Linked DNA regions of Homo sapiens: regions 1, 2, 3 and 4 are each linked to region 5. Evidence: fine-mapped expression QTL. A gene starts in region 5. Each other region holds a variant in brackets. All regions are shown on one strand. Distances are from middle to middle.

What was found. PIP is the estimated chance that this variant, and not a neighbour inherited with it, causes the effect. A credible set is the group of variants that fine-mapping cannot tell apart.
Region 1: its variant is the best candidate, but not a certain one, in a credible set for the expression of SMIM8 in macrophages after interferon gamma (Alasoo 2018, PIP 0.54).
Region 2: its variant is the best candidate, but not a certain one, in a credible set for the expression of SMIM8 in blood mononuclear cells (TOPMed, PIP 0.66).
Region 3: its variant is the best candidate, but not a certain one, in a credible set for the expression of SMIM8 in T cells (TOPMed, PIP 0.63).
Region 4: its variant is the best candidate, but not a certain one, in a credible set for the expression of SMIM8 in monocytes (Fairfax 2014, PIP 0.55).

Annotation. Positions count from the first base shown.
Region 1 is chr6:87,342,565-87,348,697 of GRCh38, reverse strand. C6orf163 (chromosome 6 open reading frame 163) reads right to left here and starts at 3,885. Exons shown (of 5, transcript NM_001010868.3): 1 at 3,451-3,885. The coding sequence starts at 3,598. The variant AT/T (reference allele first, on the strand shown) is at 2,757.
Region 2 is chr6:87,197,046-87,203,178 of GRCh38, reverse strand. All of the region lies in intron 1 of ZNF292 (zinc finger protein 292), which reads right to left. Among named protein-coding and RNA genes, the nearest start is that of ZNF292, 45 kb to the right of the region's middle. The variant A/G (reference allele first, on the strand shown) is at 3,569.
Region 3 is chr6:87,210,610-87,216,742 of GRCh38, reverse strand. ZNF292 (zinc finger protein 292) reads right to left here. Exons shown (of 8, transcript NM_015021.3): 2 at 686-840; 3 at 366-444. Among named protein-coding and RNA genes, the nearest start is that of ZNF292, 58 kb to the right of the region's middle. RefSeq lists enhancers at 2,368-3,567, 3,611-4,362, 4,363-5,116, 6,077-6,133. The variant G/A (reference allele first, on the strand shown) is at 3,391.
Region 4 is chr6:87,233,318-87,239,450 of GRCh38, reverse strand. It overlaps ZNF292 (zinc finger protein 292), which reads right to left. Exons shown (of 8, transcript NM_015021.3): 5 at 5,924-6,126. Among named protein-coding and RNA genes, the nearest start is that of ZNF292, 81 kb to the right of the region's middle. The variant A/TA (reference allele first, on the strand shown) is at 3,046.
Region 5 is chr6:87,319,446-87,325,578 of GRCh38, reverse strand. It overlaps SMIM8 (small integral membrane protein 8), which reads right to left and starts at 2,991. Exons shown (of 4, transcript NM_001042493.3): 1 at 2,947-2,991. It overlaps GJB7 (gap junction protein beta 7), which reads left to right. Exons shown (of 3, transcript NM_198568.3): 2 at 2,536-2,713. RefSeq lists a silencer at 2,880-3,169.

The DNA of each region.
Region 1 (6,133 bases), 23 kb before region 5:
ATGCCAGTATATATATTTCAAAGATACCCATTGAAAGAGTAAGATTTTCTCTGATTAGGAGGGAATTCACAGCACTGTCAGGCCTGGATAGAGTTGGTCATTCCCCTCATCACACCCAGTCCACACAGCAGACAACTGGGGAGGTGAAATAAATGCCCGAAGAAAGGGACATATTTTGTACACCCAAAGTAGAATGATGAGTGAATATTCAAGAGGTCTTAGCACATTATACAGCTCTCTCTCTCCCTGTTCCTATTTGGGTGCTAGGGCTAGCATCAGGAGAAGGGAAGTGGAATGCCTTCACATTACATGCCTTTCTTTAGCATGTGGTTCTTTGTGGGTTTAACTGCTTCAGTATGGAGTGAGCTAAGGGGTAGAAGTTTACTATTTTTCTGTCAATGATCTAATTTGATTTCCAAATAATAACATTCCCATAATAATATCCTCTCTACCCAGACAAGGTAATAAAAGTCTAGAGAGGCTAGAGGACCACGCAATATCAGACAGCCAGGTCTTTTTCCACTGGGATTTCTCTTTTTTTTTGAGAGGGAGTCTTGCTTTGTAGCCCAGCCTGCAGTGCAGTGTCGCCATTTCGGCTCACTGCAACCTCCGCCTCCCGTTTCAAGTGATTCTCCTGCCTCAGCCTCCCGAGTAGCTGGAATTACAGGCGCCCACCACCATGCCTGACTAATTTTTGTATTTTTAGTAGAAACGGGCTTTCACCATGTTGGTCAGGCTGGTCTCGAACTCTTGACCTCAAGTGATCTGCCCACTTCGGCCTCCCAAAGTGCTAGGATTACAGGCGTGAGCCACCATGCCTGGTCTTCCTCTGGGATTTCTAAGCTGAAGGTAATAGATTCTTAGAGCTATCTGGATCCACATTCCTCCTTTCCCAGCTGCCGGAGTAAGTCTAGCTGCAGCAGTAAACCATTAAGCCAACTCACTAAAAGGGTAAGCATGGACAGATTGAAAGCCTTGATGCCAGATTTCCCTTGGGTTTCTCTGTTAAAAGAGTCAAGAAATTCCATTTCATGCAGTCTATTCTGAGTTATGTTTCTGTCACTAGCAATTAAAAGTATATGTTTGGCGGCACAGAGTCTCCTACTAGTTCATCAGCGAATCTTAAAAACACAGGGCAGCATATATTACGGTGGAGATGGACACATACTGCAAAAGCCCAACATTGTGTAGAAATAATTAGAAAAGATTTTCTAGGACAAAATGTGACTAAGCATGGACCATCAACGTATTGAACTTCATAAAAATGTGATACAAGTGTAGGCTATCACTATCCTCTTTTATGTTTAAATCCCATTGGTTTTATTAGTTGTTCTCAACCCTGATTGTACAACAGGATCCCTGCAAAGCTTTTTTTAAAAATGCACATACTGTAAAAGGAACAAACTATTGATAAACAACTTGGATGAATCTCAAGGGCATTGTGCTGAGTGAAGAAAGCCAATCTCAATGGGTTACATAATCTATGATTCTTTAGATAGCATTCTCAGTGATAAAATTATAGTGATAGAGAACAGATTAGTGGTTGTCAGGGGTTCAAGTTTGGGGAGAAGAGAGTGACAGCTAAGGGGTAACACGAGGGAGTTCCTTTGTGGTGATGGAACAGCTCCATGTTGTGATTGTGGTGATGGCACATTAATATACACACATGATAAATTTCATAAAACTCTATGCCGGGGGAAAAAAGTGTACATAAGGTCTGTACCTGAGTTAATAGTATTGTTTCAATGCCAGTGTTCCAGCTTTGACAAAGTGCCAGGATTATGTAAGATATCAATGGAAGCTGGATGAAGGGTACAGGGGAACTCTGATCTATTTTGCAACTTGTGAGTCTTAAACTATCTTGAAATAAAAAAGGTTATTTAAACGTGAAGGAAAAAATACACATGCTTAGTCCTGACCGTAGAGGTCCTAATTTAGTGGCTCTGTGTTAGATTAGTATTAAATCCAGTGGGTCTGTGTTTGGATATCTGTATTAATATTTTTTTTCAAAGTTCTATATAGTGCACTGCCAGGATTGAGAACTATCGTCCTATGAAATACTCACTAGCTCTTCTACGGACATTTCAAAATGCTTATAAAGAACAGACAATTTCAACTTTCTTTCTTTTTTAACTTAAAACAGTTCAATGACAAAGGTCACTGAATAGAAAAGATTAATTTCTAACAATAGATTTAACTTATCCACTTAAGGTTTGGGTTAGATATTCCATAAGGCATAAGGAATCAATCATTAAGGTATATCTAAGAATGGAGATACACTGTCCTGGGTATGAAAAGTCACTTTAGAGATCATAATGAATCATTCATACTAAGCACTTACTAAATGCTAAGAAACAATTTTGGAATTGATGTTTTTAGAAGATGATTCCAATTTGATCTCCCCCTACATTTTAGTTTTTTTTTCCAAACACCTCTGCTCTCCAGCTTCTTATATTTTCAAATATCAGGAGTGAAATGAAATCACCCTTAGTTTACCATTTTAAAGGAAGAGAGGATCAGAGAAGTATTGTGAGAGTTCTTAGGAAAATACCTACAAGGCTCAAGGTCAGACTGAAAACTCTTACGGGGATAAAAGAGAGATGGAAACCTATAGTACAATTTGATTTGCTTATTATATATACATACGTATGTACAGTAAACGTCCTCATGTTATCTATATGTATCTACTTTTATGCTACCAGCTACTATTTAAAGGTTATATAGTTTCTTTTACCCATTTATTAGGGTACTTTAAA[AT/T]TTTTTTTTTTTTTTTTTTTTTTTGAGGCAGAGTCTCGCTCTGTCACCCAGGCTAGAGTGCAGTAGCACGATCTCAGCTCACTGCAACCTCCACCTCCTGGGTTCAAGCAATTTTCTTACCTCAGCCTCCCGAGTAGCTGGGATTACAGGCGCATGCCACCATGCCTGCTTAAATTTTTTTAGTAGAGACGGGGTTTCGCCATGTTGGCCAGGCTGGTCTTGAACTCTTGGCCTCAAGTGATCTGCCCACCTCGACCACCCAAAGTGCTGGGATTACAGGTGTGAGCCACTGTGCCCATCCAATTAGGGTGTTATTTAGAGATAATATTTCCTCTCCTACACATACTGAAAGGTGCTCAAGTATGGCCAAGGGCAAAATGAACTCACATTTACTATTATGTGCCAGGATTTATAATAGATACAAATACTTCATTAAAGTCTCATAACAACCTGTAAGATAGGTATTAGTATATTTATTTCCACATAAGGAAACAGATTGAGAGGCTAAATACCCTGCCCAATACATACAACTGTAAGTGGAGAAGCTGTATTCCAACCCATATTCTCCTCAAATATCCCTGTAGGGACAAGCAACTCTGAAGAGAAAAAAGCTGATAAAAGTCTATGTAACAGAAAGAATGACACATAAGGCTATGAAGCATTAGAACAAAGGAAAACGATAAAGTCACTTACCTAGTATGTCTTTGTGAGTGTAAAAGCGTGTCTTAAGTGGCTTGTATTCATGGATCCGTTTGAAGGTTTTTCCAAAAGGGGCTGGTGGAATTATTTTATTACAAACAGCACAGCAAACAAAGTTTTTGTAATCTGAATTTCTGATCATAGTTAAATTTCAGATGTCTTCTCCTACTTACAGTTAAAATAATCTTAGAATCAGAAAAAGTCGTTTCAAGAAAAGCTGAAAGTTTAAGAAAGCTGGAAGAGGTTCAGGGTTTTAGGATAATGCTAGAGGCTGGTAAGGATTAAATGGTTCAAGTGATTAGGCTGTGGTTATGTGTCTAACGTTAAAGAATGGTGCTAAAAGCCCCTGCCATAGAAGGTATGGGCACCAGATTTGGGAAGATTTAAGTAGTTGCTCCTTCCCAGACTCTAGCATTAAGTTGTTAACTTACTTGGCAACTGTTGCTAGGTAAGACAAGCTTTGCTCATAAAAGCAACTTCAAATAATGACAAAAGGGAGCATGATACAGCCATTCATTTTCCTGATACTTTCTATATTAGTTTCCTATTGCTGCTGTCTTACTCTGTTTTCTGTTGCTTATAATAGAATACCTGAAACTGGATAGCTTATAAAGAAAATGAAATTATTTCTTACAGTTTATGGAGGCTGAGAAGTCCAAGGTGGAGGAGTTGCATCAGGTAAGAATCTTCTTGGTGGTGGGAACTCACTGAAGATTCCTGAGGTGGTATAGGGTATGACATGGCCAGGGGCTGAGCTCACATGCTAGCTCAGGCCTCTCTTCCTCTTCTTATAAAACCACCAGTTCTCCTCCCATGATAATCCATCAATCCCTTAACCCATGAATGAATTCACTCACCCCTTAAAGGCCCCACTTCTCAATACTACCACGTTGGGGATTAAAGTTCAACATGAGTTTTGCAGGGGACAAATATTCAAACCATAGCACCACTGTGACAAACTACACAAACTTCATAGTTTAAATGTAACACAAATTTATCCTCTTGCATTTCTGGAGATCAGAAGTCTAAAATGAGTCTTAGGGGCTAAAATCAAGTTGTTAGAAGGGCTGGTTCCTTCTGCAGGCTTCAGAGGAGAATGTGTTTGCTTGCCTTTTCCAGCTTCTAAAGGCCATCCATATTCCTTGGGGTCATGGCCTTGCATCATATAGCCTTTTCCCCCAGTGCTTCCATAGTGACATTGTCTCTTCCTCTGATCTTCTGCCGTGCTTTAAAGACCTTGGTGATTATACCAGCCCCATCTAGATAATCCAGGATAATCTCCCCATCTCAAAATCCTAAACTTACCCATATCCGTAAAGTCCCATATTTACAGGTTCCAGAGATTAGGATCTGGACATTTTTGCAGGGAAGGAGAGCATTAGTCAGCCTACCACACTTTGTTTTAAATTAGTTTTTAAAGAATTAATTTCTTTTAAGGCCAGCAATGGAGGTAGCTTAATTTCTTTTAGGTTTTTAATAAACATGATGTGTTGGTGCCATGGTAATAAAACTGGGAAATATCATGGTATCTTGAAGAAGAAATTACTTTCATTAAGGCAGCATTCAAAATTACTAAGCCTGGTTTTAAAAATCACATGGTTAACTAATTTGTTCCTATAATTTTAGATAAACAGCCATAGAAATTCCACCTATCGCAAAAATCTGTGCAACTGATTGTACCAAGTAACTGAATTTATAAAATTGCCTGACAATGTCATATGCTGCATCTACTTGGCAGGACTATTTTATAATAAGTGAGTGCCATCAGTGAAATTAATTTCAACAACAGGACTCCCATAGGGCCCTGAGCTAAGTGTACCACAAGTTACTCTATAATTTATATTAACACATACGGCCTGATAACTGGCTGAAGACCTTAAGTAACTATCAAATTGTGCCAGATTTGACTTCAAGAAAAGGGTTAACTGGGACTTGGAGAGGAATTAAAAACAAAGAGATGAATTAGTATGAAGAATGAGGATTACTGCATCCACACAGTTAATTATCTGGATTGAGAACTGAGGCTACTTGTGCCAATAACTTTCCTATCTGTTACTAGAAATTCTTGCCCAGATGGAAGGATAACTAACTGGCCTTGATTTGCCTGGGACTGTCCCTGTTTTAAAACTGAAAGTCCTGAACTTCCTTAGTGTCTGGCAAATTGGAAGAGTTGGGCCTCCTATGGAAGATAAGGCTGTAAAACCAATAAATACTTTCAGTGTTTGCCTTAGGAAATCCTTGAAAAACAATTTATCAATTGGACAGCTTGCTGATCTAGGCAAACAGCTCTTCCATCAGAAGATTAGACTACTCCCCTGGGCAAAGAGTTCACTTAACATTTATTGAACAATAGTTTACTAATCAAGACTTGCTTCAAGATCTAATCTGTTCTGTCAGGTACCTTGCCCATTCTCAACCAGATTCCTGCATTGAAAGACCCTTCTTTAATCACTTGAACTCAGACTTCCAAAAGACTTTAATATCTTCCCCTGACCATCCCATTCTTAAATACAGCTAACTTTGTAAAAGTGGTATTTCCCTTTAGTGCAGTAGATTTAATAAGCTTAGTTTTGTTTGATCATCAGGTTGTTCTGATGGTCTTGTGAGGGAGCTGGCAGTTAACAGTCCTTTACATAATTCTGTTTTAAAGTACAGGAGTGTTTCTCTACTTAAGATC
Region 2 (6,133 bases), 120 kb after region 5:
ACACAGTGAGCCCTGTCTCACTTTAAAAAAAAAAAAAAAAAAAAAGGAAAATATATTAATGTAATTCACTCTAATAACAGATTTTAAGGGGGGAAATTATATGATTACCTCAAAACCATTAAAAAGATATGCAGTAGTCCCCTATTTATTCATGGGGGATAAATTCCAAGACTCAGTGGATGCCTGAAACCCTGGATAGTAGTGAACTCTACATATACTATTTTATCCCTATATATACATATACCTAAGATAGTTTAATTTGTAAATTAGGCACAGTAAGAGATTAACAAAAATAATAAAATAGAACAATTAACAATATTCTGTATTAATGAAAGTTATGTGAATGTGGTCTCTTTCTCTCCCCCCTTACTGTATGTAATACTTTTGTACCAGGGTAACTAAAACCACAGAAAACAAAATCATGGATGGGGCGGGGGGAAGGGGAAATATTGTAATCAAAATGCAACTTGAGGTAAAGAAGAATCAGTATCTCTTTACGACAAGGAACAGAAGGAAAGCTCTTTAATGTGATAGAGGGTATCCAGAAAAACCCATAGCAAACTACATTCTGGGAGTATGAAATGTTAGAAGCATTTCCCTTTAAAGTCAGAAAACAAAACAAAAATGCCTATCACTGCTTCTATTCAAAACTGTAGGGCTAATCAGCACAATCTGAAAAAGAAATAAAAGCAGTAAGAACCAGAAAGATAAAATAAAAATGTCACCATTGCAGACAATGCACACGTAAGAACTTCAAGAGAATTCAGTATAGTAGTTAGATATAAGATCCATACACAAAATCAACTGCAATTCTATTTTTTTAAAAAAGCAGTTAGAAACTATAATTTTTAAAAAGATAACATTCACAGTAACAAAACTCGTGAAGTACCTAGGAATGAATCTAACAAAGTATTTATAAGATCTTTTCAAAAAAAAGTATAAAACTTTATTTAAAGAATAAAAGGAAGGGTGCATAAATGGAAATACCACATACATAGATAGTGGAAGACAAGTTAAAGATGACAATATGAGCCATATTTAAAAAGTCAAAGCAATGCCAATGAAATTCTCCATAGGATTATTTACAGAATTTGACATGTTGATTCTAAAAATCATTCAAAAGGCCAAATCAATTTTGAAGAGCCAGGTTTTTGAATTTGGAAGATTATCTGCCCTAATCAGATAGCAAGACTTATCCCAAAGCTATAGAAATTAAGACAGTGTGATTTTGTTATAGACATAGATGACAGAAATGAAAGAGCTTTAAAACAGAATTACATATATGTGAGAGCATGGTATATAAAAAAGCCCCATCAGAAACCAGTGAGGAAAGTACAGACTATTCCATAAATAACCTGAAACAACCATTTAAACAGGAAAGAAAAATTATAACTATTCCCAGCATATAACAAAACTATATCCTATATGGACAAGTAACTGAATGTGAAAAGCAATACTTTAAAACTTTAGGATGAGGCTGGGTGTGGTGGCTCATGCCTGTAACCCTAGTACTTTGGGAGGCTGAGGTGGGCGGATCACTTGAGGTCGGGGGTTCAAGACCAGCCTGACCAACATGGAGAAACCTCGTCTCTACTAAAATACAAAAACTAGCTGGGTGTGGTGGTGCATGCCTGTAATCCCAGCCACTCGGGAAGCTGAGGCAGGAGAATCGCTTGAACCCGGGAGGCGGAGGTTGCGGTGAGCCGAGATCATGCCATTGCACTCCAGCCTGGGCAACAAGAGCAAAACTCCGTTACAAAGAAAAAAATAAAACAACAACAACAAACTTTAGGATGAAAACATAGGAGAACATCTTAAGACCTTAGGGCAAAGAAGGTTTTCTTAAGACAGAAAATACACATCATAATGGAAGATAATAATAACTGCAGATACAATAGAATTAAAAACTTCTGTTCAACAAAACCCCATAGAAAATCAAATAAAAGGCTACAAACTGGGAAGACATTTTGTATCTCATATTCGCAAATAATACATAGTGCCATATGCATAATACAAAATTCATAATATAAATATAAGTCTACCTCGGAATCTCAGGGTTGAGATTGGTCCACCACCATTTTTACTTCTGAGTATGTTGCCTTTATATCATCTCTCTCCCAAATTGTGAGAATTCAGGAGAATCTCTTACTTGTGATGAAATCCAATAATCTTATTTCCACATTGTTCTGGTTGAGACACTTGTTTCCCCATATCTCAGGCTACCATCCCTGGCAAACGGCCCAGTGCAGTAGTTATTTCAGTAGCAGTTTAGCATTTTCAAAGAAAATCAATTATGAATTTAACATGATTCACATTCCCATATATACTCAATGCTAGGATGTGAAATAACCATTCACAAAACTGAGTTTCTGATAGCTTTGAATCCCTAAATAATCTCCAATATGGATGCTATAACACAATCTCCAGACTTTCTGAGAATTCTAAAACTTCTGGCTCCAGGGCCTACTCTCTTTGTAGCATTCTGATGGCACGAACCAATCATAATCCCAAAACCTCCCTATTCCCTAGCCTGACATGGTGTGGCCCATAATTTCTCTGTTCTTGCATATTCTTTGCTATAAACTAGGCTTACAGAAGCAACCACATTGATGCCTTGGCACAAAGGGTTTCAATCTTGGAAAAACACGAGCATGTTTGATGCTAACCTAATTGCTAAGAAACCTGACTTTAATGGGAGCAGAGATTTTTTTTTTAAATGTCTAGTACATAACATAGAAAGGGAATGTTTTTAGGTTTCATCCACTGAATTAATTCTCATAATGCTATGTAACTGTTTCTCCGTATAAAACACTCTGAAAAGGACAATTCTGACTTCAGCTTAGTCTCCACAGTATTTCTGGCTTTGAACTTACTTTCCAAAAACACTAACACAGTATGTCTGTTTGATCTGTACCTTTACATTGTGACTCCCATAGTCAAGCAGTCATAATGAAGGTAAATACATGGCTCAAATCTGAAGTGAAGACTTTAGCCCAACATATAGCTAAATATCATGTGGGAGGTCCAAAATTCTTAAGAGTAAACCCCCTTATACAGAATATAACCCCTAGTAACTTCAGAGACCTACAAGCCCAGGATGTACATAATTAGATTCAAAGAAGCAGAGTCTAGCTGCCATAAATAATTATAGCACGAGCCTCAATCTCAACTTGCTGGGGATAAGCCAGAAAGGCTGCCACAGTCTACTGTGTATGTCTATCATGGGCCAGTTGGCACACACAATACATCCTTACTTCAGAACATGAAATACAATGGTAGGAAACCCAGCTTTAAAGGTGATTGATTCCTTTAATTTCTATATTCTCTAGTAACTGCTCTGAATAGAAATAAAATTAAACAGAAATAGGTTTTCCCTTAGTCATTTATACTCATTGTATAAGTGACTTTTTGATGAAAAAGAAATTAAAAACATTTTCCTAGAAACAAATGTTAATATAGGCTGAACCAGAGGGCATGTGATCCATTCTCAGCGCAGGAAATGGTACTGAGACAACTGAATATCTACATGCATAAAAATGAAATGAGATGCTTACCTTGCATCATACAC[A/G]AAACCCAAAATGGACCATACTTAAATGAAGAACTAAACCTATAAAACTTCTTGAAGAGTTCTTCGAACACCAAACATGATCTATTTTTATAAAGTTCATAAATTGGACTTCAATTCATCAAAATAAAAAATTTCTGCACTTCAAAAGACCCCATTAAAAAATGAAAAGCCAAGCCATAGGCTGAGAAAAAAATGTTTATAAATGATACATCTAACAAAGGGCTCATATCCAGAATACATAAAGAACTACTACAACTCTAATAAAAAGACAACCTGGTTTTTTAAAATGGGCAAAAGATTTAAATGGACAGTTCACCAAAGAAGATAAATGGCTGAAAATGCACATGAAAAGATTTTCAATATTATTAGCCATTAGGGAAATACGAATTTAACTATGAGAAACCACATCCACTAGAATGGCTATAATTTTAAAAAGACAATATCAAGTGTTGGTGAGTATACAGAGAAACTGTAACTCTCATGCATTGCTAAGGAGAATGTAAAATGGCACAGTCACTTTGGATAGTCAGTTTCTTAAAAAGTTAAACATAAATTTACTATTCAAACCAGCAATTCAACTCCTAGCAATCCACCCAAAACGAATATAAGCTTGTTGGCCAAAAGAAAAGTATATGACTGTTCACAGCAACACTATTTATAACTGCCTAAAACTAGGAACAAGCCAAATGTCCATCAATGGTTTGAATGGATAAGCAAAATGTAATAAATCCATATGGCTGAATATTTTTCAACAATAAAAAGGAATGAAATATTTGATAGCTTTTATCCCATTTAGTAAGAATATTCATGTATTCTGCTGTGTTTATGAGACGCAACCCAAGGACCCTTTGAAGTTATTGTGTAATACAATATATGCACCATATTCTTTTTTGAACGAAGAACATTTCTGAATTCTGATTCACATCTGGCTCAGTTTCAGATAAAGATTGCAAAGTTCACAGAGAATAACTTCCCCAAGTCTAATATATTTAAGTACTTCGTATCTTATAAAACCTATTTTAAGTCTCATCCATTTCCCAACTACAAAGCAGTTCTAATGTTAATATTTTCTAAAATGACTAACATGGAACACATAAACATGCAATGGGCCGGGCGTGGCTCCTCAGGCCTGTAATCCCAGCACTTTGGGAGGCCCAGGCGGGCGGATCACGAGGTGAGGAGATCAAGACTATCCTAGCTAACACAGTGAAACCCTGTCTCTACTAAAAATACAAAAAATTAGCCAGGTGTGGTGGCGGACGCCTGTAGTCCCAGCTACTCGGGAGGCTAAGGCAGGAGAATGGTGTGAACCCGGGAGGCGGAGGTTGCAGTGAGCTGAGGTCACGCCACTGCACTCCAGCCTGGGTGACAGATCGAGACTCCATCTCAAAAAATAAATAAATAAATAAATAAATAAATAAATAAATAAAATAAACATGCAATGGTGACTTGGTTATGTCAGGATTTAAATTTTAAGCTAATTGGTGTCATCTGTTACACAGATCTCTAGCTATCTGAATTTTCTCTCCAACTTATCAAATTTATAGAATCAATTTGAAACTGATGAAAAAGAAAATACCAATCAGTATCTATTAAACATTGCTTAAAACAGCAATGATTCAAATCATATTACTTTTATCTTCAGGAAAAATTAACTACATTTCAGAGAGACCTGTTCTTAAGATACATAAATATTCTTAAAATAGAAATGATCTGAAAATCCCTTTAACTGTAGCAACTTCATAACCCAGAATCAAAGACTGAAAACACCTACTGTTGAAAGCTAGAAATGAATGTACTTCTTTCAACTAAAACAGATACTTCTTAGATAAAAAATTGAAACTAACTCAGGCTCTAATGAATGCTTTTTTTTTTTTTTTTTTTTTTTGAAACAGCGAGTCTCACTCTGTTGCTCAGGCTGGAGTGCAGTGGCATGACCTCCGCCTCTGGGGTTCAAGCAATTCTCCTGCCTCAGCCTCCCAAGCAGCTAGGCTTACAGGCATCTGCCACCAGGCTCAGCTAATTTTTTTTTATTTTTAGTAGAGACGGAGTTTCACCCTGTTGGCCAGACTGGTCTCGAACTCCCGACCTCAGGTAATCCACCCGCCTTGGCCTCCCAAAGTGCTGGGATTACAGGTGTGAGCTACTGTGCCCAGCCTTACTTAATGCTTTAAAAAAAAAAAAAAAAACCCAAATGTTAAAAATCTGATATTCTCAAATTGTACTCAGGTTTCAAAAACATTTATGGTACTACCTAACCTACTGCAATTAAATGAAATACTAAATTTTCTGCTATGGGATAGATTTCCAGAAGAGCAACTGCTAGAATATAGCAAACAGATATGCTATTTTACTAACACATTTACTGGCCAGGTTTATTTTACTGGCCACATTGCTTTCCCAAAAGGTTGTTTTCTCATGTCCACCAAAGTTTGAGAGTGCCTTTCTCTGTATTACCTCTAGCAAGAAGTCATATACAGCCTATTAAATTCTACAGTTTCTCTAATTTGCACTTCTTTAACTAATAATGAATCTGACCTCCTTTCTCATTTGTTGGACATTTGG
Region 3 (6,133 bases), 110 kb after region 5:
ACACAAATTTTCATGAGGATTAAATGATATATGTGAAATTCTTATAAAGCACATTGAAGACTTTCAGAAACCAGTTTAACTGTTTCTAAATCCAAATGAGGGCACTTTCTTTTGTGTTCCCTTGCTGCTCTTACAAAGCCCTAATTATCTGATCATAACGATTATTCAATCTATCTAAATGTATATATACATTTAGCAAACATTTGTTGAGATCTACTCTATGTAAGATACTAGTGTCAATAAGATCAGTAATTAATGTCTGTCATTATTGAGATGTCTTAAAGTTTAACTGAATAATTTTTTTAAGAGTAAGGAAAACTGACATAAGATATACCTGTATTAAATCTAAAGATAAAGATTCTCACCTGCACCAGTGTCTGAAATTGTTCCCACTGTTTATCTGATAACTCAACAGGCAGACACAGTAAAAGTTCAACACAGCTTCTAAAAAACAAAAAGTTGGTAAGGAGAGGAATAATTATTAAAATTCAAAGGAAATTATAAAACCAGTAATTCTAGTATCATAAGCAGACTCCCCATAACTAATCTATTTAAAATTAAACTATAAGACTTGAGATTTAATGTTGTGTGTGTGTGTGTGTGTGTGTGTGTGTGTGTGTGTGTGTGTGTGTGTCTATGTATTTTTAAAGCTAAATCTAGTTTATTTACTCAAAGGTCTACTCACAATGCCAAGCGTTCCAGAACCAAGGCTACATTTTCACATTCAGAGGTAAGATAAGGTCGGGCTTTAACATAACTTTGGATAGCCACTGTGTATACCTCCAATAAAGGTAAAGGATCTTCTGAAGTTTTCCATTTCTCTGCATATTCTAGGAGTGTCTGTTTTGGAAGGAATAATAAAAAGTATTCAAAATGTAAATCAAAATATACATTGACTCATCAGCTGTTTTTTCCTGAAAAATTTTGAAAAATACAGATTTTTATTTATAAAAACAAAAAGTAGTTTATATTGATTAAAATATTAAATGAAATAAAGTCATAGTCATATTTTTGGCAGCTCTCTGTAGGAGAAAAGATTAGTATTAATTCATCCAGCAACAGCATAATTTCATCAAGGCTAGTTTTAAATAGGGCAAGAGTTATCTCCTCTATTCCCTAGTAAGTTTTAAAAGTTATTTTAAAAAGACATCTGAGCAAGTAACAGTTGACCAGGCATGCAGTGAAGAATTTGAAATAATATCTGTTTTCTATTTCTCGTAGAAGCAGCAGAAAATTCAATATTGAACAACAAAATAAATCATGTATGGTCAGCAAAGACGTGTCCTTTTTCAGTCCATAAAAAAATAACAGTACATACAAATTAATAATTTTTTGACAAGCACTAGCAATTAAAAAGTCATCCAAAGACTTTCAACATATAAAAATCAACATTAAAGATATTAAAGAATTATTATAAGGTTAAGTAATTTTTGTAATAGTGTTTTTTTAATTAAAAATATTTCTCATCTTTCAATTAAGTGAATATTTTAAATTTACCTCATCAGAATTACTTTAAAAGATGCTATTTATCTTACTGAATAAGAGATGGGAGATAATGGAAAGATAAGTTATACAGAAACACACATGTTAAGACTCTTACCTAAAAGGTTCTATAGTTATGCTAAATGAAGAGAGATTCTAATTAAATGTTTTTATAACACAGAAGACTGCCACAATTGGTCCTCTCCACACTTCAGGGTTTAAGACTCATTTAATCAAACATATGGAAATTCAGGTTTCTTTTCCTAGAAAATAGGGTATTGAAGGAAAAAAAAATTTCCTGAGGGCCTGTATCCTCTGGCATACAGAAGCACTTTTAAAAACTGGAGGGAGGGAAGGGGTGGGGGGGATTGTATTCTACTACCAAAGCACTTACTACCTTGACCTCTCTACTAACTTCCAACTAACAGAATTAGTAAGTGATTAGACGAAAGCAATAGAAAAAGTAAGCTGGTAAACTAAAGGGCAACAAAATAACTACTCACCGACTGAGTAGCCATATATTCACAGACCTTGGCTCTCAACTAATCCTTTCCTTTCCTTTCCCCCTAAGAAGTGAGGGCAAATACTGATTGCTAGAGACAGAAAGGACAGAAAACCTGCAGCCACAGTGCAGGATGTAGGATGGGGTGTCGGGGGATACTCAACTAGGTCCAAAACCAACTCCACAGCAAAATTTCTCAGTAAAGTTGAAGTGGAAAAACGTGTTTCTCAGATATCCAGGAAAAAACACTGCAATCTTTCCCAGATGAACCCTGAAACAAATTTGCTCTCATCCACACTTGCACCTCACCTCACAATCCCATTATATCCCAAACCTTCATGGTACAAAATAGATTCTACGTGAGGATAAAAACAACCAGAGATAAGTTCCTTAGCTCAATCCACATGAAACCCAAAGGTAAAGCTATTCCTGATCTTTTAAGTTCCAAGCAGGGACAGAGATGCTGGGGAAGAGGGGAATCCATGTTTCTGTACCCTCTTGGCATTGTTAAATGTAATGATGAACAAATGACATTGTAGCTGGTCATGAGATGAAGCTGCCTACATTATACCCAAGCTGCCTACATTATATCCAAGATTATTCAGCTTCGATGTAAACACAGAAATTAAAGCCTTTTATTTGCCTAATCATGTCACTATTATACATATAATCCCAATCCAGAGACTCACTTTTGCAGGTGCTGGGGCTCAGAAACTGATACCCCAAACTGTGGCACTTTGACATGCTGAAGAAGCAGCCTCAGAGTCTCTCCGACCTTCCCCTGTTTCTTCCCATCTCTTGATCCTCTTTCTCGCAAAACACAGTATGAAGTTGTTCTGTGAAGTTTCCTTATCTGTCTAAAGTCCAGGCCCACCAAAGAAGAAGAAAATTACCTTTGATCCTGTTAAATATAGTGAACCCCAAGTTTCTCTTCAAAGAATCAGTATGTCAGTATGTTCAGCTCTCTTATTCTTTGATTCTCCATTTTAAAGTTTAGCTTCCTGGTTCTCTTCACCCCCTTGCTTCTAAGTTTCAGTAAACAACTTTCCCACCAGTCCTAATCAGTAGTTCACATCTGTTCCCTGGTCACCTGGTCCATCCTGACTCATCCCGGTCACCTGCTTTACCTGAGTCACCCCTGGTCACCTGCTCTGACCTAAGTCACCTTTAGTTACCTGTTTCTAACCATCCTTCCCGCCAAACTACTCACCCTACCACTCTGGCTCATACCCCCTGCTCTTTTTAAAATAGCCAGTTGGAATTAGCTTAGACTGTGCGGGCCAACCCTAGCCAATACAGGAATGACACAGCAGTAGGGGATACCTGCGTCAGGAACAAGAACTCCTTCCCCTCCCCTGTCCGGGTGTGGTCTCACCATTGTTCCATCTGCAAGGAGCACCCTTTCC[G/A]CAGAAAGTAAAAATTGCCTTTCTGTGAAAATTAAATTTATGTTTGAGTGCTATTTCTTTGTGGCACCGGGAATAAGCATTTCTAACAGTCCCCTCCCTGAGTTTTCATTAACTGAACTCATAGGGCAGGAAGACGGAAGTCTGTCAACACACCTAGCCAGACTTTTGTCACAAACCACTGAATGCTTAGCAGGCTCAATAGACTTTGTCCCAGGCCACTGTATGTTCAAGTCCATTGAATTCCCCTAAAAATAATTTACAACCCTCCTCTAAAATCACCCACATTTCCCCACCTCCCTTTCATTAATAAATCTGTATGCCATTTCTCCTATTAATCTGCTGTTTGTCAGGTGATTTTCAGTGAACCTTCAGAGGATGAAGGGAAGTTTTCTTTTGACCCCTACACAGAAGAATTCTTAACTTTCTTCTAAACAGCCCTCAAATAAAGAAGAACTTATATTTCTTATGGATCTGAAATGGTTATACTCTCCAATCTTTTGACCAGCTAGATGATTCAGAGGACAATGACAGAGAACTATGGACTGCTAGAAATGAAAACATTCTCTTGCATGGTGATTTTGATTAGAGCAATTAAAACCTGGGATTAGTTCCTGGTTGAACCAACATGAACTAGGAAAGATTATACAAGAAAATTTGGAATTCAATGATGCAACCATTCAATCAAAAGGGATGTTAAGATTCATGACCAGTCTTTGAATTCAGTTTGTGCCACTGGCAGGCATACAAGTATGGTATAATAAAAAATAACTGGTCTTTGTCCTAGGTTCTTAGCACAAAGCTCCTAAAACCCTTGAAATCTACGTAAGTGTCTTTTTCATGTTAATGAGATAACATTAGGCTGAGGAGCTTCTAGATAGCTTTAAGACAGGGACTGGTCACTACAAAGACCATGCCATGATTAGAGAGATGGAACTTGTAGCCCCACCCCCCAGTCTTGCAGGAGGTAAAGGGGCAGAGATTGAACCCAATCACCAATGGCCAATGATCTGATCAATCATGGCTATGTACTCCACAAGACCTCCTAAACAACAGTAGTCTAAGAGCTTCTGAGTTGGAAAACACATCCATGTGCTGGGAAGGTGGCACATCCCAACTCCACAGAGACAGGCTCTGGTGCTTGGAACCCTTTCAGATCTCACCCTAGGTACTTCTTCATCTGGCTGTTCATTTGTATCCTTTATAATACCTTGTAATAGTAAGTATAGCATTTTCCTGAGTTCTGTGAGTTATTCTAGCAAATTACTGACCCTGAGGAGGGGGTTGTGAGAACCCCTAACATTGTAGCCAAGTTGGACAGACTTGGGGACCTGGTACTTGCGACTGGCATCTGACCAAAGTCCTACACTTTTTTCCCCATTAAACCAATGGTTTTTGTTACGACACCCCTTCAAGAATGAATGAATGTCTATACACATATATTTATATTTATACACATATGAACAGACAAAGATAAATGTCACTGTAATCTGGTTTGAAGATGAGTTGGGGGGAGATGGCATAGAGGGGAAAAGACAAGGAACAAAACCTAAATGTCTTCCTGCAATGCACCATATTGCTTCCATTAATGAGTAACCTGTAAGAAAAATATGGTAAGAAAATTTAAAACTGTTTTTTGATGAATGACTGATGGAACTAGGGATGCTTTATCTGGATACTAAATAATATTTACTGAATATTTACCATGTGCTAGGCGTTGTTCTAAGAGCTTTACATGTACTACCTATTCAGTAATTAGGTAAATTATAGTAATATGCTTATATTAAAAATTAACTAACCAAAAGTAGTGAAATAAAAAGCCATAAGACCACAGAGCTAGGAAAGGCAGAGAAGGGATTCAAATCCTCATAGTCTGACTTCAGAGTGTTCATTCTTAACTACTATGTGATACATTTCTGGAGAAATAAAAATTGACTTGTAAATCCAATTTTTAAAATTTGGATTAAATTTTAGATTAAATTAGCCAAATTCACAAATCTAGAGGCTTGTCACATAAGAGAGGAGTTAATTTTATTCTGTGTGTCTCACAGGTCATACCAGGACCACTAGGTTGAAGTTTAAAAGAGACACTTTCCTGTTTCCTATAAGACAGAACTACCAAACCATTAGAGTAAACCAAAAACAGAACAAGTTGGCCTCCTGAGACAGGTGGTGGCCCACGAACTGAAGTTATTCAAAGAGGAGCAAGATGATTCAGAGTTGAGGATACTGAAAGGAGTCATATATTAAAGACACACTCCACCATACCAGAAGGGACTACACTAGTGAGTATATGTGTGTGTTCATAAACTAGTGGCTCATGGATGTTTTGATGTGCACATTGTTCAAAAAGTATTTGAATTAGTTTCTAATATTTAGAAGTCATATATTTTACATAAAAACTTGGGTTTCTGGCTTTTCTTTTAAAACAAAAAAAATTGGCAACTTTGGGCCCACATCCCAGCATGGCAACTAGCTAGGGCTGAGTGATGACCCAAGATCTCCCACTGAGATCAGACACAGGCTCTGTGGGTGCTACATGCCTCACCTCATTCTTTGTTTGTTTGTTTGTTTTTGAGACAGAGTCTTGTTCTGTTCCCCAGGCTGGAATGCAGTGGCATGATCTCGGCTCACAGCAAGCTCCGCCTCCCGGGTTCACGCCATTCTCCTGCCTCAGCCTCCCGTGTAGTTGGGACTACAGACGCCCGCCACCAAGCCTGGCTACTTTTTGTATTTTTAGTAGAGA
Region 4 (6,133 bases), 86 kb after region 5:
TGGGGGGCAGCCCCCGCCCGGCCAGCCACCCCGTCTGGGAGGGAGGTGGGGGCCAGCCCCCGGCCCGCCAGCCGCCCCGTCAGGGAGGGAGGTGGGGGGCAGCCCCCGCCTGGCCAGCCGCCCCGTCCAGGAGGTGGGGGGGCGCCTCTGCCCAGCTGGCGCCCCGTCCGGGAGGTGAGGGGTGCCTTTGCCCGGCCGCCCCTTCTGGGAATTGAGGAGCCCCTCTGCCCGGCCGCCACCCCGTCTGGGAGGTGTACCCAACAGCTCATTGAGAACGGGCCATGATGACGATGGCGGTTTTGTCGAATAGAAAAGGGGGAAATGTGGGGAAAAGATAGAGAAATCAGATTGTTGCTGTGTCTGTGTAGAAAGAAGTAGACATAGGAGACTCTATTTTGTTCCGTACTAAGAAAAATTCTTCTGCCTTGGGATGCTGTTGATCTATGACCTTACCCCCAACCTGGTGCTCTCTGAAACATGTGCTGTGTCCACTCAGGGTTAAATGGATTAAGGGCGGTGCAAGATGTGCTTTGTTAAACAGATGCTTGAAGGCAGCATGCTCGTTAAGAGTCATCACCACTCCCTAATCTCAAGTATCCAGGGACACAAACACTGCGGAAGGCCCCAGGGTCCTCTGCCTAGGAAAACCAGAGACCTTTGTTCACTTGTTTATCTGCTGACCTTCCCTCCACTATTGTCCTATGACCCTGCCAAATGCCCCTCTGCGAGAAACACCCAAGAATGATCAATTAAAAAAAAAATATATAAATCAAAACCAAAAAGAAATAAAAAAATAAAAAAATAAAAAAAATAAATACTTACTGAAAAAAAAAAACCAAAAAAATAAAACCTAAGGCACTCTTGCTGAGTGCTCATATGGTACCAAATTTATCTATTATGTATAAGGCAAGAAATTTACTTCCCCAATGTTATTACTATCATTAGCTTACTTTTTTTTTTTTTTTGAGATGGAGACTCGCTCAATCACCCAGGCTGGAGTGCAATGGTGCGATCTCGACTCACCGCAACCTCCACCTCCCAGGATGAAGCGATTCTCATGCCTCAGCCTCCTGAGTAGCTGGGATTACAGGCTAGTGCCACCACGACTGGCTAATTTTTATATTTTCGTAGAGACGGGGTTTCACCATGTTGCCCAGGCTGGTCTCAAACTCCTGACCTCAGGTGATACACCCACTTTGGTGTCCCAAAGTGCTGGAATTAAGGTGTGAGCCACTGCACCCGCCCAGCTTACTCTTAATATTTAAAAATATAAATTTGTGATTGCCTATGTGTATTTTTTCATATACATGCAACATACCAACTGAAACATCTGCTACATTCAGTAACACAGCAAACTTCATTTCTCATAGGCATACTAATGAAACAATTTTCATGGTGTACTTGGGATCCTTCATTTCTCTTATTTGCCACTAGATGGCTGTCTTGAAAAAATATGACATTAAATAGAATGCAGGAATAAGGAAGTCATATACAAAGTAGTAAATTACTAATTAAAATCATGAAAAGTGAAACATAGCCACCAATGAACAAGATTTAAAAATCCAAAGAAGCAAAATTCAGAGATTACCAGTATATTACCTATATAGGGACTATTCTCTATTGCTCTGACAAATGAGCAAAAATTTAAATACCAGAAAATTTAGAACTCTTAATAAAATATTTAAAACCAATTAGAATGATCTGTTTGCTAAAGACACATTATGCTGAATAAAGTCCCTTTGTAAAGCATAACAATTATTTCAAAGATGTAAATAATAATTTGTATGTTTTAAAATGGCTCTTTATGCCAACTATTCAAAAAATATAGAACACTATCAATATTTTATATGAATTTACGAAGTATACTTTTAAAAAGTATTGGCTGTAATCACATTTCAAAAACAGTTTCAGTTGGGTGCGGTGGCTCACGTGTGTAATCCTAGCACTTTGGGAGGCCAAGACAGGAGGATTGTCTGAGCTCAGGAGCTTGAGACCAGCCTGAGCAACACAGTGAAACCCTGTCTCAACTAAAATACAAAAAATTAGCCAGGCATGGCGGCGTGCACCTGTAGTCCCAGCTACTTGGGAGGCTGAGGCAAAATTAATTGAACCCCGGAGGCAGAGGTACCATGAGCTGAGATCACACCACTGCACTCCAGCCTGGGCAACAGAGCAAGCTTACTCTGTCTCCAAAAAAACAAACAAACAAACAGTTTAAAAAATTGATTTGCTTATCAAAATAATATTGCTTTCCATATAGAAAATAAATGTTAAACCTGTCATAACTAAGAAAATATAAAATCAAGAGTTAATCAAAATTAACTCTTGGGCTAGCAAATATTTAAGACTAATAATCTCTAAGAAGATATTTCACACTGTTTTTGGAAACATAAATTGCCATAATCTTTTCTGGAGGATAGTTTGAACCTATCAATTTAAAATGTGTTGATTCTTTGATCCAGCAATTTCACTTCCAGAAATTTACCCTACCAGTATACTCCCCACAAGGATACACGGATGTATGTAAAAGGCAACAATATAAGTAAGTGTCTACCAATCTGGTTAAAGATATTACAAATGCATACTATGGAATTATGTAGCCATGAGAAAGAATAAGGTTGATCTATATGAAATGATATGGAAACATGTCCACAATAATAGAGGGAAAAGGGACCGGCAACCAGGGAGTGTGTATGCGATTTTAAGTATTAAAAATGCATGTATGTGCATAGAAGAATGTCAGAAAGATTATATATCAAATTTTAATCTTAATAATAATTACCTAGTGGAGTATTAATTAGGGAAATGAGACAGCTACAGAGATACAAGATAGAAAGTTTTAGTTTTTAAACTTCTATATTTTAATGATAAAACAAATAGAAATATTGGATCTAAACTAGACACTGCTAACTTAATTTTTTACTACTATACCAAGAATCCAGACCAAAGTTCATTCCTTCCAGAAAGGCCAGATAAACACTTAATCTCTCCCAGCCCCATTCCTCTGCCATCTACCAAGGCTAGCTGCTATTTCTTTTCTTTTTT[A/TA]AAAAAAAAAAAAAAACAACCTATGGGGTATCAACTAGCTGCTATTTCTATCACACCGAAAGGGTCCTGGGAAACAGTCAATCCCTTGCCTCACTTGGACAAAGATTTCCTCAGAAAGATCACCACCAATCCAGGCCATTGCTGACTCCTTCTAACAAAGTCTGTTCCCACTGTCCTTTAAGGAACACGTAAACAAAACCAAACCTCAAATACTTGTAAGAAACAGGCAAGTAACGTACATTAATGAAGTGGACAAAGAGTAGGGTGGGCAAGTGAGAGAGCACATGGTGCACACCTCTTCTAAAGGGGGCAATGTCTCTGGGTTGGGGACAATAAATCTTAACTCACCTCATATGGAACAATGAATAAGTTTCTAATGTGTTTATAACAGAAACATTAAAGAGCAATCATCTCTAAGCAAAAAAGGACTTTTAACAAAGTAATGTTGTTACTTTGTAACAAGGGACTTTTAACAAAGTAATGTTACTATATATGTGTAGTGCTATGTAAGTGTAGACTTAACATCTATCTGTCCTGTTCTGCACTATATGATCTAGTTTTTTTCCTGGGATGGAGTATATAAACCTTAGTGAACCCTGCTTATGAACATGAAAAGTCTTAATTCTACCTGCTTAACATGAGAAGTGGGGGGGAGGGAAATAGTTCCATATGACACTGGAAGTACCCAGGGTCTTCACAGAATTTTCCTGATCATCTCCCAGAGTAGGCTGGACTGTTGTTACTCAACTCTGGATAATTAAACCAAGAAGGAACTTAGGCTCAGTATTGCAAGACTGGATTATTCAGAGAGCTAGAAATACAGATTTTTTTTTTTTTACTAGATTTTTACTTGAGACACAGATTCACAGTCTTCAACTTCAAAGCTAACCCAACAACTCTATGCTTAGATAGTCAGTTTCCTAACAGGAGATACGCTTCTTTAGTGAAGGGCCTACCCCTTATTCACCTTTAAATCCCACCTCCCCCAATCCCCCCCAATGCTTATACAGAAAAAATCATTCACTTAATACAAATCTGTGGAAGGGGAAGGGAGGTCAGATGAACCTTAAGGGCAGGGACTGAACTGATAATAAAAGCTTTCGTGGCACTGAAAAATATCTGAGAAGCAGCAGCACAATAACTAATGATTTTTTTAAAAATGTTACAACACGTCAAAGGTGATTTCAATAAATTTTATACATCTGCAAATTAACTTATCTAGTTATTTGGAACTAATAAGAAAATGTCAGTCTTCTATTTTGCTCTCATATATAATAGCAATTAAAAGGCCAATTACCTGTAATAAAATAAATAATAAAGAAAAAAATCTATAGACTAGTTGAAGTCCAAACTAATAGTGATATAGTATCCTAGGCTACAGACCATGGTTCCACTCCATCTAGCCTACAAACTGTCTGACATTACTCTTCCCACTATCCTCAATATCCTCACATAAGAAACCCAACAGGTTTATTTCTTATCTTGGTCCAAGCCTACCACTTGCCTTCCTACTTGTCTATTCTCAAGGAAAAAAAAAATCACACAATCATCATTACAAACCTCATGTGGCACTGAGCTTTCTGTATGAGGCTATTCTGCTTTGAGACTGATGACAATACCTAAGAGGATCATGCATGCTCTATTAGTTTACTTCTCTGTCTTATATCTCAATTTTTCCCTTAACATATCCTTATGTTTTACCTACAATCCCTTTGTTTTCCTCTCTATTGCTCTGGAGTCAAAGGATATGTTATTACAGATATAAGACACCCGTACACATTCAGTGCCCACTGAACACTGATCAACCTACTATAGGTTTTCTTTAAAAAAAATTTTTTTTTTTTTTTGCGACAGAGTCTCACACTGTCACCCAGGCTGGAGTGCAGTGGCATGATCTTGGCTCACTGCAACCCCCACCTCCCAGGTTCAAACGATTCTCCTGCCTCAGCCTACCAAGTAGCTGGGATTACAGGTGCCCGCCACCATGCCCAGCTAATTTTTGGTATTTTTAGTAGAGAGAGGAGTTTCACTACGTTGGCCAGGCTGGTCTCAAACTCCTGACCTCGTGATCCGCCCGCCTCGGCCTCCCAAAGTGCTGGGATTACAGGCGTGAGCCACAGGCACCCAGCCAATCTAGTATAGTTTTATCTAAATTCTTTAAATATACACGCCCTGTTTCTTGATCAACAACTTCTAATTCTCCTACCCTGTTTCCAACTTCCTTTTGAAATTGTAAGTCCCTCAAAATGCAAAATTGCAAAATTCCCATTTGGATCATGATTCCATTCTCAGAATTTTGTAGTCATAAACTATACAAATATGTGAATACTATGCTTTATACCAAACTAGAAGTGAAAAGACAATGTCTCAGAGAGAAAATAAGGTTTTACATTAAATAGGCAAATAAATACGTACTCAAAATGATATATAGCATAGATGTGCATATATATATTCTATATAGAATTTATATGACAAAGTATTTCCAGAGATAAGTCACAAAAATTCTATAAAGTTACTTAAATTAGCCAGTTTAAAAGATGTGCAAGTATCTTGAAGTCAGACAAGATTGAAGTTAAGGCCAAAAGCTGACAAATATAGATATTTTACTAAACTGTTAAGCCACCACTATCTTTCCCACAATTTAGCCAAAGCATTTAAAAGATGTATATTATTTAAAACAGAAACTAGGTGCAATCAGTTTACATATAATTCTAAAAGCTACTTAGAATCAAGTTGCCACCACTCAAGAACATACCAAAAATGTAAGATTGACAATGATCTCTTCGCTATCTAAGAGAAAAGGAAATCAAAGACATTCTAATTAAAAATTAATTTCTCAACTTAAAAAATAATTACTAATGAAAGAAAACATACTCACCTCTTCGATTAACTTTCCATTTGGTGATGATGTACAAAGACAGACAAGGTAAGTTTGCTTAAAACTACCTTTTATGCCAATCTCTGGATGGTCAGAACACAGCTTTGCTAGAGCAGTTGCTTGACTTAACTGATTTGTTTTGATTAGATGTTTAATTCTCATATCCAACAAGATGGGACCCTCAAAAGCTAAAAATTCATTCACTTTAAA
Region 5 (6,133 bases):
CAAATCAATAAATGTAATCCAGCATATAAACAGAACCAAAGACAAAAACCACATGATTATCTCAATAGATGCAGACAGGCCTTTGACAAAATTCAATAACCCTTCATGCTAAAAACTCTCAATAAATTAGGTATTGATGGGACGTATCTCAAAATAATAAGAGCTATCTATGACAAACCCACAGCCAATATCATACTGAATGGGCAAAAACTGGAAGCATTCCCTTTGAAAACTGGCACAAGACAGGGATGCCCTCTCTCACCACTCCTATTCAACATAGTGTTGGAAGTTCTGGCCAGGGCAATTAGGCAGGAGAAGGAAATAAAGGGTATTCAATTAGGAAAAGAGGAAGTCAAATTGTCCGTGTTTGCAGATGACATGACTGTATACCTAGAAAACCCCATTGTCTCAGCCCAACATCTCCTTAAGCTGATAAGCAACTTCAGCAAAGTCTCAGGATACAAAATCAATGTACAAAAATCACAAGCATTCTTATACACCAGCAACAAACAGAGAGCCAAATCATGAGTGAACTCCCATTCACAATTGCTTCAAAGAGAATAAAATACCTAGGAATCCAACTTACAAGGGATGTGAAGGACCTCTTCAAGGAGAACTACAAACCACTGCTCAAGGAAATAAAAGAGGATACAAACAAATGGATGAACATTCCATGCTCATGCGTAGGAAGAATCAACATTGTGAAAATGGCCATACTGCCCAAGGTAATTTACAGATTCAATGCCATCCCCATCAAGCTACCAATGTCTTTCTTCATAGAATTGGAAAAAGCTACTTTAAAGTTCATATGGAACCAAAAAAGAGCCCACATCGCCAAGTCAATCCTAAGCCAAAAGAACAAAGCTGGAGGTATCACACTACCTGACTTCAAAGTATACTACAAGGCTACAGTAACCAAAACAGCATGGTACTGGTACCAAAACAGAGATATAGATCAATGGAATAGAACAGAGCCCTCAGAAATAACGCCACATATCTACAACTATCTGATCTTTGACAAACCTGAGAAAAACAAGCAATGGGGAAAGGATTCCCTATTTAATAAATGGTGCTGGGAAAACTGGCTAGCCATATGTAGAAAGCTGAAACTGGATCCCTTCCTTACACCTTATACAAAAATCAATTCAAGATGGATTAAAGACTTAAACGTTAGACCTAAAACCATAAAAACCCTAGAAGAAAACCTAAGCATTACCATTCAGGACATAGGCATGGGCAAGGACTTCATGTCTAAAACACCAAAAGCAATAGCAACCAAAGCCAAAATTGACAAATAGGATCTAATTAAAGAGCTTCTGCACAGCAAAAGAAACTACCATCAGAGTGAACAGGCAACCTACAAAATGGGAGAAAATTTTCACAACCTATTCATCTGACAAAGGGCTAATATCCAGAATCTACAATCAACTCAAGCAAATTTACAAGACAAAAACAAAGAACCCCATCAAAAAGTGGGCGAAGGACATGAACAGACACTTCTCAAAAGAAGACATTTATGCAGCCAAAACACACATGAAAAAATGCTCACCATCACTGGCCATCAGAGAAATGCAAATCAAAACCACAATGAGATACCATCTCACAGCAGTTAGAATGGCAATCATTAAAAAGTCAGGAAACAACAGGTGCTGGAGAGGCTGTGGAGAAACAGGAACACTTTTACACTGTTGGTGGCCTGTAAACCAGTACAACCATTGTGGAAGTCAGTGTGGCGATTCCTCAGGGATCTAGAACTAGAAATACCATTTGACCCAGCCATCCCATTACTGGGTATATACCCAAAGGACTATAAATCATGCTGCTGTAAAGACACAAGCACACGTATGTTTATTGCGGCATTATTCACAATAGCAAAGACCTGGAACCAACCCAAATGTCCAACAATGATAGACTGGATTAAGAAAATGTGGCACATATACACCATGTAATACTATGCAGCCATAAAAAATGATGAGTTCATGTCCTTTGTAGGGACATGGATGAAATTGGAAATCATCATTCTCAGTAAACTATCGCAAGAACAAAAAAGCAAACATCACATATTCTCACTCATAGGTGGGAATTGAACAATGGGAACACATGGACACAGGAAGGGGAACATCACACTCTGAGGTCTGTTGTGGGGTGGGGGGAGGGGGGAGGGATAGCATTGGGAGATATACCTAATGTTAGATGTCCAGTTGGTGGGTGCATCGCACCAGCATGGCACATGTATACATATGTAACTAACCTGCACATTGTGCACATGTACCCTAAAACTTATAATAATAACAAATAAATAAATAAACAAAACAAAACAAAAGTATCTTTCCACCTCTTGGATGTAGTACTGTCTCTGAAAAAAGGGGAAAGGCTTTGCTGGCGACAGCCTGAGTACTGACAATCTGAGTCTCATCTGGCTTCCCCCAATGTCATGGACTACTGTTCGGTGCCGAAGGCTTACTCAAAGACAGACGCATTGGAAGCCTCCAAAAGAAAACTTCATTCCGTTAAGTTCTACACATTGTGTTGCAGGGCTGAAAAAGCACGAGTGTCCGCACTATGACAAAAGAAAAGCGGCGTCTCCTCAAAACACCACCATGTTCCCCTATGAGTCTGGTGAGCCAAGACACTAAGAAACTGCAGGAAACGAGAGAGTTCTCGGGGTGGGGGTGTCCATGGATGAAGCACCGAACAAACTGGAGCCCGCAAGGTGAGTACGGGAAATGGGCTCTGTGGGGCCAGAGAGCTTCACCGACTTGGGGTGCGGGTACAGGGAGTCCACGGAGAGGCAAAGATTTGGGCTATCCGAGAGGACGCTCCCTCCCTGGGAGGGAGACCGGCAGGGCAGCTGGGAAGGGCAGAGACGGGAGCGTGATGGTGCGGCCGCCCTGGCCCCTCCAGGCCGGCGCCCAGCCACTCAACACCACCGAAGCCGCCGCTTACCTTTCGCGGGGTCACCTCCTCTCCTCGCCCGAGACGCCCCGCCCCGCTTCGCCGCCCCGCCTGCTAGAGAGAGCGGCGGAGGGCGCCCCGCCCGGCGCCACAGCGTCCCCTGTCTTCCGGAGGCTGCGGCGCAGCGGCGCGGGGCTGCGGGGACCCATCCAGTGCTAGCCTTTCCGGTTCTGAGGACCTCGCGCCCCTCCTTGGGGTCTGCGGGCTGAAGTGTGCAAGGGACGTTTTTGCTTTCTTCCCTTTTTGACCTTTAGTTTTCCACCTCCCAACTTCAAATTACGTTCCAGTTCGGTGTGTATGTTTGTATAAATAAAAGGAGACATCTCCTAGAAGTATGTTTATTTCATGAAAGTGGAAAGCATTCTGATTTGGGAAAGAAAGCTAGATCTGATTTCTTCCTACCCCTACTTTAGGGGAACAGTCATTTAAGTGTAGAGTTAATACTCTGCCATTACGTTAGGGCCTTGAGAGTCCAAGATGCAGGATGTATGCAGGTGCAGTTGAGACAAGAATAGATATAGGGATGCTGGTTTGCACATACTTTGCTGATGTTTAAGTTTGTTGGGATACACGTGAAAACTGATGTGGTTTGGCTCTGTGTCCCCACCCAAATCTCATATGGAATAATAGCCCCCTTGTGTTGAAGGAGGGGCCTGGTGAGAGGTCACTGAATCATGGGGCCGACTTCCCCCTTGCCATTCCCATGATGGAGTTCTCAGAAGATGTTTGTTTATAAGAGTGTAGCACTTCCCCCTTCACACTCTCTCTCTTTCTCTCTCTCTCCTGCACCACGGTAAGACGTGCTTGTTTCCTCTTCCACCATGATTGTAAGTTTCCTGAGGCCTCTGGAGCCATACCTCCTGTACAGCCTGTGGAACTGTGAGCTAATGAAACCTCTTTTCTTTATAAGTTACCCAGCCTCAGGTGGTTCTTTCTAGCAGTGTGAGAAGAGACTAATACAAAAACCAAAAATAAAATTCTAAGCACCACCATCACCAACCCACCCCTGAAAGGAATGGACCTCTGTCTTGGCCAAGGTAATCTCAAAAAAACCCTGAAAAATGAGTTCAGGCCCTGATGGGAAGGGGTGGGCGGTTGGATATGCCTCATTATACCTTCCTCCCGTTGGAGGTTAGACACAACTGACCAGCATTAACATTAAAACGGAGATCGTAAGACTGGTAAAATATACTGTAGCAATAAGAAAATTCCAACCTGACTCTGGAATAACATCACGTGACACATAGTGGGACCTGAAAGAAATAAAAATATGTTACCCCAAAATATATTTATTTGACTATTTTGAAATGGCCTCGCAAAGCTGTCTCTTGTTGGGGAAAACTTACATTCTATAGAAAATCTCTTTCCCTTACTAGATCTTTTTTTTTTTTTTTTTTGAGATGGAGTGTCGGAGTGTCACTCTGTCACCCAGGCTGGAGTGCAGTGGCATGATCTCGGCTCACTGCAACCTCCACCTCCTGGGTTCAAGCAATTCTCCTGCCTCATCCTCCCGAGTAGCTGGGACTACAGGTGTATGCCACCAAGCCTAGCTAATTTTTGCATTTTTAATAGAGACAGAGTTTCACCATATTGGTCAGGCTGGTCTCGAACTCCTGACCTCAGGCAATCCACCCACCTCGGCCTCCCAAAGTGCTGGGATTACAGGCGTGAGCCACTGTGCCTGGCCCCTTACTAGGTCTTTTCCAGAGAGTCTGACATCTTTTAAGGTCTGATAAGAGACATTCACATCTATTCTTTGAAGCCAGCTACCCGGAGGCTTTATCTACATAAGGAGAACCTTGGCTGCCACAACACCCCCGCTTACCTTAACTCCAGCTGGCTTCACATCTTCAGGCAGAGCTTAACTCTTTCAACTAATTGAAAATGTGAAAAATCTTTGAATTCATCTTTGACCTGGAAGCCCACCCCCACGCTGCTTTGAGATGGGCCAAACCAATGTATACCTTACATGTATTGATACATGTCTTTGCCTGTAACTTCCATTTCTCTAAAATGTATAAAATCAAGCTGTAGCCCGACCACCTTGGGCACATGTTCTCAGGACTGCCTGAGGCTGTGTCACAGGCCATGGTCCTTAACATTGGTGAAATAAACCTCTAAATTGATTGAGACCTATCTCATAGACTTTCTGGTTTACACAAGTTATATTAAAATGAACAGAATAGTTGGAATAGAAGGTACCAATATTTTGGCATGGGTTTATGTAAAGCTTTGGTAAATATGTTTCGAATTTAAAACTTTTTCTCCCAAGCCAAATTAACTTCACATTTGATTTGAGGTTTAATTTTTAAAAATTTTTAATATTTATGTGTATGTATTTATGGGGTACATGAGATATTTTGGTACAAGCATACAATGAATAATAATCACATCAGGGTAAATGGGGTATCCACCACATCGAGGATTTATCATTTATGTTACAAACATTCCAATTATACCCTTAGTTATTTTTAAATGTACAATCAACTATTGCTGACTGTAGTCACCGTGTTGTGCTATCAAATACTAGATCTTATTCATTTTATCTGACTATACTTTTGTACCCGCTAAAAATCCCCATTTCCCACTCCCCCCATCCCCACTACCCTTCCCAGCCTCTGGTAACCATCATTCTACTCTATTTTCATGAGTTCTTTTGTTTTAATTTGTATCTCCCACAAATAAGTGAGAACATGCAAAGTTTGTCTTCCTGTGCCTGGCTTATTTCACTGAAAATAATGTCCTCCGGTTCCATCTATGTGGTTGCAAATTGTTTTTTATGGCTGAATAGTACTCTGTTGTGTATATGTACCACATTTTCTTTATCCATTTATCTGTCGATGGACACTTAGATTGCATCTAAATTGGGTTATTGTGAATAGTGCTGCAGTAAACATGGGAGAGCAGATATCTTTTTGATGTGTTGATTTCCTTTCTTTTAGGTATATACCTGGCTTGAGGTTTAATTTTTAAAAGTTCATTGACAACTGGTATTACAAGGCAATCTTCTGACAAAATAAGTTAAATTTCAATTAAAAAGCTGTTACTGCAGTAGCTAAAAACAATTGGAAGGCTATAAAATATTATTATGTTGCATCCTAAGCAGACCCAAACTTTTTTCTTATCCCTTAGGGTTCTCAGTGATCTGTAACATGTCAAATATCACTATGGAAACAAA